Regions from separate parts of the Homo sapiens genome. Here region 2 is linked to region 1. Evidence: fine-mapped expression QTL. A gene starts in region 1. The other region holds a variant in brackets. All regions are shown on one strand. Distances are from middle to middle.

Region 1 (5,379 bases):
CATGGCTGTTTATTTCACCTGGGTGCAGGCAGGCTGAGTCTGAAAAAGGAGTCAGCAAAGGGTGTTGGGATTACCATTAGTTCTTATAGGTTTTGGAATAGGTGGTGGAGTTAAGTGCAATGTTTTGGGGGCAGGGGGTGGATCTCACAAAGTACATTCTCAAGGGTGGGGAGAAATACAAAGAACCTTCTTAAGGGTTGGGGAGATTATAAAGAAACTTCCTAAGGGTGGGGGAGATTACAAAGTACATTCATCTGTTAGGGTGGGGCAGAAACAAATCACAATGGTGAAATGTTATCAGTTAAGGCTATTTTCACTTTTTTTGTGGATCTTCAGTTGCTTCAGGCCATCTGGATGTATACATGCAGGTCACTGGGGATATGATGGCTTAGCTTGGGCTCAGAGGCCTGACACTCATCTCTTTCCGGCTCTCCCTACCCCATTATTTTTTAAAAGGTTGTCCATATTTGCTGCCTCTATTTATTCACTTCCCATTTGTCCTTTGTCACCATAATCAGATTTCTATTCTACACTCCAACGACACTGTTCTTATGCGCTTTATCAATAAACTATCCAATAAACCCTTTCAGGTTTCACTTCATTTGACCTGTTAGCTACCTAAGGTAGGATTGTTCGCTTCTCCATGAGACACCCAGTTTCCTAGAACTCCTCCTCTCTCTGCTTTTTGTGAATATTCTTTGTGGCCTACCTTCCTTTTCTCTGTCTGTCCTTAAATGTGGGGCTCCTCAGAGATTTGTGAAGGGCCCTATTTTTTCATACTGTATATTTCCTTCCCTCCTGTCGTCCATCTACACGCTAATCTGCATCTCAGTTTAGATCACCCTCCTGATACATATGTCAACATACCCATCCCATAGGCATTCTGCCTCCCAAGCTGTTTCTGCTGTGTTCTTTATCTCAGTGAAGGACTTCACCTATCTACCCAGCGTCGTCTTGTCTCTTTCCTTTTTAATTTTTCACTTTCAGTCAACTACTAAGCCCAAGCCATTCTGCTGAAGTAGCTCTCAATTTCAACTGACATCCAGGCCATGATTATGTCACACCTTAAAGGGTCCTCCAGTTCCCAATCTTGTCAGTTCCAACCCATTTTCCAGACGAAGCCAGAGTGACTCTTTTTTTTTTTTGAGACGGAGTCTCGCTCTGCCACCCAGGCTGGAGTGCTGTGGCACGATCTCGGCTCACTGCAAGCTCCATCTCCCGGATTCACGCCATTCTCCTGCCTCAGCCTCCCGAGTAGCTGGGACTACAGGCGCCCGCCACCATGCCCGGCTAATTTTTTTGTATTTTTAGTAGAGACGGGGTTTCACCATGTTAGCCAGGATGGTCTCCATCTCCTGACCCCGTGATCCACCCGCCTCGGCCTCCCAAAGTGCTGGGATTACAGGCGTGAGCCACCACGCGCCTGGCCCTTTTATTTTTTGAGACGGAGTTTCGCTCTTGTTGCCCAGGCTGGAGTGCCCTGGCGCGATCTTGGCTCACTGCAACCTCCGCCTTCCGGTTTCAAGCGATTCTCCTGCCTCAGCCTCCCGAGTAGCTGGGATTACAGGCGTCCGCCACCACGCCCGGCTAACTTTTTTGTATTTTTAGTAGAGACGGGGTTTCACCATGTTGGCCAGACTGGTCTCGAACTCCTGACCTCGTGATCCGCCCGCCTCGGCCTCCCAAAGTGCTGGGATTACAGGCGTGAGCCACTGCGCCCGGCCGCCAGAGTAATTCTTAAAAAATGTAAATTATATCATCCCACTGCTATGCTTAAAATCTTTTGGAAGTTTGTCTCTAGGATAAAGCTCTGAATTCCTTAGGATTGCCTTCTCAGTCTCATTTCTCCGTCCCCTCTCTTACGCTATTTTGAACTTTGAATTTTTAGAATACATGCTTGCAGCGTCAAAGCTGTTCTCTCAGCTGAAATACGTGTCCTCCTCCCTCCTTTTTCTAACCAACTTTGCACTCAACCTTCATAGCTTAAATTAAGTATCACTTCTAGGAAAATGACACCCTCTCAAACCCCCTAGTTTCAACTTCTTTGTAGAGTTCCTAAGGATTCTTGTACTTATCTAGCAATTAAGAGCATTATCTTGTAATTCACGTCTTTATCTCTGCTAGACTAAGTCCTTGGGAGGGCGGAAACCAGGTTAAACTTTCTATCTCAATAGCCTAAACTGAGCGCCTTACACACAAAACAGCTGTTCAAATAGCATTTGTTCAGCGAGTAACTATTTTCTTCTTTGGAATGATGGCGGCCAGAATACCAGAAAGATGGGGACTTAAAGGGGACAGAAAAATTAAATCTATAAGGAACAAGCGGGATGGAGTAAATAAATCTATAAGGAGCAAGTGGGTACGTAGGCTTTTCCATAAACCCCTCTAACCCAGAAGCCGGGGCTGCTCGGCTAGGGGGACCAGGCCGACCTGGCTGCCGCCTGTCGTGGCGACTGGGACTCCAGTGGGCTGCCGCTTGGAGTGCGCGACCCCCGGCGAAGCAGGACAATAGCTTGGAATTCGGCCTCGTGTTTCCGGTGAGGCAGCCTCGCGCTGGGCCGGTGAGGCCTGGGGTGGGGGCTCCGAGCCGGGCCCACGGCGAAGAAGGCGCAGCCCGTTGGGCTCCAGCTGCCGCCACCACCGCCTCCCCCGACGCCGTCGCTCCGCCCCGCCCCGCCCCGGAAGTGACTTGAGGCCGGTCCGGAACCTCTGGGCCCGGCGGCTGCAGCGTCACCAGCAGAGCCGGTGCGGGGCGGGCAGAGCGGCCGCTGCCGCCGCCAACGAACTGAGAGCCGCGTGGGGCCCAGCAGCACGCCGGCCAGGGAAGGGGGCCTAGCGATCGGTCCGAGGGCGACGGGCCGCCAGCGGCCGCAGGGCGACGAAGACGCGGAGGAGGCGGAGCCCGGAGAGGGGTGGGGGCCGGGGAGGGTTCGGGTGGGAGGGGGTGGGGGGGGTGTCCCTGGGCTCATGGAGCCGGCCGAGCGGGCGGGAGTCGGAGAGCCCCCGGAGCCGGGCGGGCGTCCCGAGCCGGGCCCGCGGGGCTTCGTCCCGCAGAAGGAGATCGTCTACAACAAGCTGCTGCCCTACGCGGAGCGGCTAGACGCCGAGTCCGACTTGCAGCTGGCCCAGATCAAATGCAACCTGGGCCGGGCCGTGCAGCTCCAAGAGCTGTGGCCCGGGGGCCTCTTCTGGACCAGGAAACTCTCCACGTAAGTGTGCCCGGGCCTGCGGGCCGGGCCGGGGGGAAAGGCTCAGTGAGAGGTGTCGGGGATGGTTGCTCTTTGTCCAGAGGGCTGGACCCTTAGCTCTGTCCTCGCTGGAGCTGTCCCCGAGCGGTGATCCCAGGGTCGTGACAGAGCCTGTGAAGTACTCAAGCCGTCCTCCCTGCCACTTTCCTACGGGACTTCCCGGGTCTTTACCATCCCTCTACGTCCTCCGCATCTGCTTCTCCCGAAGTGTTCGGGTTGTTGTCTTCCCACCTGGGGGGCCCTGGGTAGCCCAAGGGCCCCGGCCCCGAGGGAGAGAGGTGAGCCTTTCTCAAGGGTCCTCCGTGGACTTTTGCGCATGGGAGAGGCGGGGCAAAGAGAATTTGTCTTTGGGGGAGTTCCTTGACTTGTCTCCTTGCTTCCTCCGGTTCTTCCTTCCCCTACGATCCCCGCCTCTTCGCATCTCCGTTGGCGTCTAGTAACTTTCTGAATGGAGAGAAGACCATAGGGAAACTTAAGGGTTTTGCTTTTTGGGGGCCCTCTCAGACCTGGCGGAGTTGATCGAAAAGGGTCGTTTAAAGTCAGACCTCATTCTTGAGCTTAACGTCTTATGTGGACAGTGTTGTTTTGGATTGTGTGTTGCTCCTGTTGTGACATTTCTTTTGGAGAGACATTTAAGATACTGAGGAAAGTAGGGAAGAGCACTGTCAGGATGTCCAGGGCGATATTAGTATCAGGCTTGTGTTAATTTTTTGAGTTACTCAGATTAAGAGATTACCTAAATCAGTTTCAGGAGTTCTGTTTGTAAACTAGCTTCAAACTATAGTGTCACTGAAATTAGGAAAAAAAAAAAAAAAACGAGTGAAAATACAGTGGGGGAAAAAAGGTTACATTTACTTGCTGGATGGGCATCTTTACTGTGTCCGAAGAGCTTTTTAAGAAAGAATTTTGCTGTATCTTGTTTGGTTAACTGTACATAAAATCTAGTAACATGGTATGTTCACGCATGTGGGTATGGACGGGTGAACACACAAGACATAACTCACTCATTCAGTGTTTACCCAAAGCTGCTGATTGAACTGAGTGATGACTCAGGGTTTTGTAATAGTTTTGTGTATATTCACTGGATGATTCTCATCTGCCAATTATTAAGGGGCCTCTGACAAATTTCTCATTTCCACTTGAGGGGTGGGTGGGACCTTTTTAATTAAAAAGAAGCAAAACTAAAACATGTAATTTGCCCTCTTCAGAGAGTGATCATAAAATGTCAAGGTTAACAGCTCTCCCCTTGACTAGAGTATAATGAAGTTTTTCGTGTTAGGATCCTTAGGAGAATGGAGGTGAGGGGCGGCAGAAGCAGGAATGCAACAGGGAGAACCACGTTTAGTCAAAAAAGAATATTTTATAAATAGTTAAAATCCAAATGCTTTTTCAAGTGAGACTCCTAGGTTTTTGTGTTGCTCAGGCACAGTAAAAATAGTCACTTTGTTACAGTAATTCCCCATTTTAATCACTTGGATTAGACTTGCCAGAGAATACCTACCATTTTTGGGGACGCAAACAGCTTTTTTTAGTGTACATTATATAAATATGCCATGGTGTGAAGGCATATCTGCTTTGGATTTATAAACCTAGAATCTACCAAGGCATAGTTAAGCATTGTTTTCTAAAGTATTTATTGTTAACAAGTTTGGTAAATTAGCACTCCGAGTTTTGTTATTGTTTTGGCTTATTAGATAAAAGTTTGTACCTAGAAAGGGCTAAAAATAACAATGGAGCTAATGTTTGGTGTTTAGGGCTGGATTGCAGATAGCTGATGGCTTAATACCCATGAACCCATAACCATTTATAGCTAAATAACCAGCAAGAAATGCTACTGGGTAGAATTTTATTTTGGAATAGTGGTTAGATGCTGGAAACTGATTCTTGATATTGCACTATGAGACATTTTGAATGCGGTGGGACATGTTGTGATCTTGGGTGTGTTTTTTTCCTAAGTCATGTTAAGGTGACCTGTTCATAGTTGTGCTTGTTGTTTTTTAAGCCTTCTGTGTTGCATAAGTGAACATCTGAATAATGCCAAAACGTGTGACGAAAGCTGAGTGGTGATCATATTTAGTACTTTGTAGAATAGAAAGTGGTAATGAAAAGAAAATCTAGTTTCTCCCACTAG
Region 2 (5,379 bases), 520 kb before region 1:
AAAATGTCTACTAGACCAAGGCTATTTTTCTTTAATATGAATTAAGAAACTGCACCTGTTAATAAAAAAATTAACTATATTCTTTGATTTACTTGCTTTTTAATAAAGTAATTATGGTTTTCCCAGAATTTTTAAACAAAATTATACAACCAAAAAAATCCCCAAAAGAGGTTATTGGTTAAATAAATCACCATACATATAATATGTAGACTCTCATGCATCAAATAAAAACAATGATATTTTATGTCTACATAAAACATGGAATAATGCTCAGAGGAAATAAAGGTAAAAACACATGCAAATTATGATTCTAATTTTGTTTTAAAACATACATATATCTGAAACAATATACACCAAAATGTTAAAAGTATTTAGCACTGGGTGGTGGGATTAAAGGCAATTTAAATTTTCTTATTTTTCTTAAGTGTATTTTCCTTAATTTCTACAGAGAACACTTTATTTTTGAAATGAAACATCTTAAGTATTTGTACAGGTAGGATTCCAATGTAGTCTGCAGTTTCCTGGACAACGCAGAACTGTCTAGCAAGACAGAGCCCTCTTGGACAACAAGGTTCTCCTAATATGATTTAAACAGATTTGAGGGGGTGGCATCACATAAGGGTTCCTTGAGCTCTGAACCTGGGATTCCTGCCTCTTCATCTTCCCAGAGTGGGCAAAGCCGAGTTGATTTTGTCTGTCCCCTGCTTACCACCCGTCAGTGATGTACAACGCTTTCAAAACAATGCTCCAAATGTATGGTCCCTGCTGTCCTCCAGACCAACCTCTGCCACACACCTGCAACCTCCTATGATTCTCAGAATTGCCTCTGAGATGCCCTCTCTACACTCGCCTCAAGCTCACCTCCTCCAGGGGGTCTTCATTGTACCTTCTGTGCCCACACCTGTCACAGCATTCCACACACTGCACTACACCTGTCAGCCCACTTCTGCCCCTGTTCTTGACTGTGAGCAGGCTGGATGAGATATAAAGAACGGTGCAATTGGCAGACAAGGGAAGACAGAACTTTTTTCAGGACATTTTTTTTTTTTTAAAAAAAAACAGCTTTATTCAGGTATAACTGATATACAATGTGCATATTACACAATTTGGCAAGTTTTGACCTATGTATATACCTGTGAAACCATCATTGCCATCAACAAAATGAGCATACCCATCACTCCTAAGTTTCCCATGCCTCTTTGGAGTCCATGCCTCCTGGCCCATCCTCACTTACCCTTATTCTCCACCTCCAGACGACCATGGATCTGCTTTCTGTCGCTAGAGATTAGTTTGTAATTTCTATATAAATGGAATCATACAGTTAGAACTCTTTTTTTGTCTGGCTGCTTACCCAGTATAATTATTCTCAGATTCACTGATGTTGCTACATATACCAATAGTTTGTTTTTACTGCTGAATAGTATACCATTAAATGGCTACAACAGTTTGTTTATCCATTCACCCATGATGGACATGTAGGTTGTTTCCAGTTTGGGGTTACTACAAATAAAGCTGCTATAAACATTTGTGTATTTTTTTTGTACGAATATGTGTTTTCATTTCATTCCTAGGTATCTCTAGTTAAATACCTCGGAATTGAATGTCTGGGTAATATCACAGGTCATACTGTAATTTGTTAAAAAAACTGCAAGTTGTTTAAAACAATGAGCAGACAAGGACTCAAATGCACCAGAGGAATATCCTCTTAAAAGATAAGTCCTTTTTAAAAGGGATGATGAGTCACTTTATAATGTGAATAATCATCCTCTGTAATTTTTAAAATATTCACATTTTAAATTTCTCAAGTAAGTCATGTCTGTATTAATTACAATTATGTAAAAACTTGCACTCTGTCTGCTGTCCAATTCCTACACCGTACCTCATTCTTTTCAGGATTTGGGTAGCACCATTAATTGCATTTTTCTCTGTACTCTCTACAGTGGCATTTATGAGAAAGAGCATGACACTGTGATTATCTTCAAGTGTTGAAGGAGGACCCTTTCTTTGCATGTGTTCCAAGTAAAGAGAGTAACCCACTCACGTGACTTTGGGGAAGTTATATTAACTTCTGTTGTCTTTGATAGACACCCTATCATCACTCACATTTGAATGTAAGGTATCAGGGGTCTCCAGTTTAAGAGGCTATTAAGTAATACAACATGGGCTACACAAAGAAAAGCAATTTCACCTGCAAATATCTATGTTGGCACTTAGTCTTGGACCCTCTTCTTCAATTTTAACCTAAATTCAGAACACATAAAAATAAGGCCAGGTGTGGTGGCTCATGCCTGTAATCCCAACACTTTGGGAGGCCAAGGCAGGTGGATAACTTGAGGCAAGGAGTTCAAGACTAGCCGGGCCAACATGTCAAAACCTTGTCTCTACTAAAAATACAAAAATTAGCCAGGCGTGGTGATACACACCTGTAGTCCCAGTTACTCTGCTGAGGCACAAGAATCACTTGAATCTGGGAGGGGGAGGTTGCAGTGAGCTGAGATCACGCCACTGCACTCCAGTCTGCGTGACAAGAGTTAGACTGTCTCCCCCAACCCCCCAAAAAAGAAAACACAAAACACACAATTTATAGAATATATATGTAAGAGCAACCCAGAACACAGAAGGAAATTATAAGAAAACTAGAAACATCAAGATATGCTCCTTAGGCCGGGTGCGGTGGTTCATGCCTGTAATTCCAACACTTTGGGAGGCTGAGGTGGGAGGATTACTGAAGCCCAGGAGTTTGAGACCAGCCTGGGCAACATGGCGAAACCCCATCTCTACAAAACATGCAAAAATCAGCCAGGCATGGTGGTGTGTGCCTGTGGTCCCAGATACGCAGCAGGCTGAGGTGGGAGAATCCCTTGAACCCAGGAAGCGGAGGTTGCAGTGAGCTCTGATTGTGCCACTGCACTTCAGTCTGGGCAATAGAGTGAGACCCTGTCTCAAAAAAAAAAAAAAAAAAAAAAGATATGTTATTTAGTTCTATCTAAACTTTAAAAAAGGATTAGATTTTCTGATGGACACTGTATTCAATATTCTGCAGACATATTAAACTGCACAACAATTTTCTAAACACAGTTTTTAAAGGATCTGAGTGTAATAGCATAACAGAGCTAAACAG[AGT/T]CTGATAGCTTTTATTATTTCTATTAACTTTTCTGCTCTAGTTTATACAAGCCAATAAATCTCATTCTATTCCACATGAAAGGAAATCCACTCAGTAGTCAATTACATTTCTACATCAGGCTGGGGGTATCTTTGCTTGAGACATAAGAGACGTGTCCATGTGTCCTCAGCATGAAGACTGCTGTAACTTACATAAATGTTCCAGAAGCAAACCTTTTCAGTAAAAACCAAACCCCATATAAAATGTTACTAGCTTGCCTAAGTTCGAAGGCATCTACCACAGCAGTCAGTCAGTTGGTGCAAAGGGCAGTAGGTCCACCACCTGCAGTGAGGTCACAGGAATGACACAGCCTTTGAAAAAGGTGTTAAGTAAAACTCCTCAGACCCAGCAAATCCACTTTCAGGGATCTAGGGGAAAAGGCAACTTCAGATAAAAATATGAATGCAGTGATGCTCATCACTGTGCTTTTCTATAGTAGCAAAAAAAAAAAAAAACAAAAAAACAACTGCAGACAAACTAAATGTCCAGTAATAGGGCACACCTACTTTAGAAATAGGGTACACCTACTTTATACAGCCATAAAAAGTGTTTTCAAAACAATTTTTTAGCATGAATACAACCCATAAAAACAAAGGGTATAAAAATGTGAGTGTATATGTGAGCGCAAACCGTAAACTGGACCAGAATTATAGCATGGCTTAGCTCTAGGATTACAGGAATATTCTTTAATGTATTACTCTCATATTCAGAAGTTATTTTTTAAATTATGGTATATCCTAAAAATAATTATCTTGAGGTCTCTTGTTAAAAGCTCTTAAAATACCACATTATTTCTCTGGAAACATCTAAAGAACAAAATTTGTTTACCAGCCATGCTGCCTATTTCTTTAAGGGCCTATTTGCAAAGCCTAATAGAAAAATTTGGATTTAAAAAAGAGAGAAACAAACTGGGTGCAGTGGCTCATGACTGTAATCCCAGCACTTTGGGAGGCAAGGTGGAGGACTGCCTGAGCCTAGAAGTTCAAGACCAGCCTGGGCAACACGGCGAGACCTCGTCTCTACCAAAAAATAAAAAGAAAAGAAAAGTTAGCTAGGTATGGCAGCATGCATCTGTGGTCCCAGCCACACCAAGAGGCTGAGGCAGAAGGACTGCTTGAGCCAAGGAGGTTGAGACTGCAGTGAAGTGTGTTTGCACCACTGCACTCCAGCCTGGGTGACAGCCTTGTCTCCAAAAAAAAAAGAGAGAGAAATTAGAAGTAAATTACTTAAAAATGATTACTTGAACCACAGAATTTAAATGTTTATGATTACAAAGCATTTAAGATATGATATTCAAAAGTTTACTTTAAATGGCAGCTCTTCAGGAACATATTTACTCCAAGAAGTTATTCTTACATAAGATGACCAAGAATTTCTGATCAGTCCTTCATCAAGAATGTCAACCACAACAGCTCAAATCCTATTATCTAGTTGGTAATGAAATTTTTTTCTACCTAAGTGTAGAATGGTCGAAAGAGAAAATGTGACCTTCAATCCTTGAGTATGGTTTTGGAGACTTTTCACAATCTATTACTATGTGAAAAAGAAGGTAAATCCTCACAGTGACAGGCTATGATGCCAGGGGAATCTTCCTGTCGGTTAAGTTTATTAACAGTTTTTCTGGACCCCAAAATTTACAAAGTCTAACCTTGACCTTAGTAAGGTCCCTTAGAGTTTCTTAACCAAATTATTGCCACAACTTCCTGACTGGTTTCCCTGCTCTGAATTTTGCCCAACTGAAATCCATCCTCTTCCATGCCAGAGCTCAAACGAGCTTTGAAGAACACACAAGCTTGACTAAAATGTTTCACCACCCTCCTCACTTGTCTTTTGGGTAAAACCTCCTCTCAAGGCATGCAAGAGTTTTTGCCTGGCCTCAGCTCCCTTCACTCTTCAACACAGCCCTCTTTATTCCAGCCACAGCAGAAGAGGTCCTCAAAACACACTGTTTTCTCTCTCCCTGGCTTTCTGCCTGCTGTTCCCCTGCGTGGGACTCTCCCACACCTTAATCTTTCCAACTAACACTAATCATTTTTCAAGAGTCACCTCCAGCCTCATCCTTCTTCACTAAGCTGTCCCCATCCCTCCCATCTGGCATCTACCTGAATAAGATGCCTATTGACCAGACTGAAGCCCAAGCCCATCTTTGCTACTAAGGTGGTTATCCAACTTAATACAATAAAGCATGTCCGCTACTAAGGGGAAATTCAGGAACA

What was found. PIP is the estimated chance that this variant, and not a neighbour inherited with it, causes the effect.
Region 2: its variant is fine-mapped to the expression of PSME4 in lung (GTEx, PIP 0.97).

What each region holds. Positions count from the first base shown.
Region 1 is chr2:53,968,373-53,973,751 of GRCh38, reverse strand. PSME4 (proteasome activator subunit 4) reads left to right here and starts at 2,759. Exons shown (of 47, transcript NM_014614.3): 1 at 2,759-3,209. The coding sequence starts at 2,968. It also overlaps a transcript of ACYP2 not described here. RefSeq lists enhancers at 2,241-2,290, 2,586-2,880, 3,147-3,911 and silencers at 2,491-2,880, 2,755-2,916, 2,891-3,090.
Region 2 is chr2:54,490,589-54,495,967 of GRCh38, reverse strand. All of the region lies in intron 1 of SPTBN1 (spectrin beta, non-erythrocytic 1), which reads right to left. It also overlaps the pseudogene C9orf85P1. Among named protein-coding and RNA genes, the nearest start is that of SPTBN1, 37 kb to the right of the region's middle. The variant AGT/T (reference allele first, on the strand shown) is at 3,122.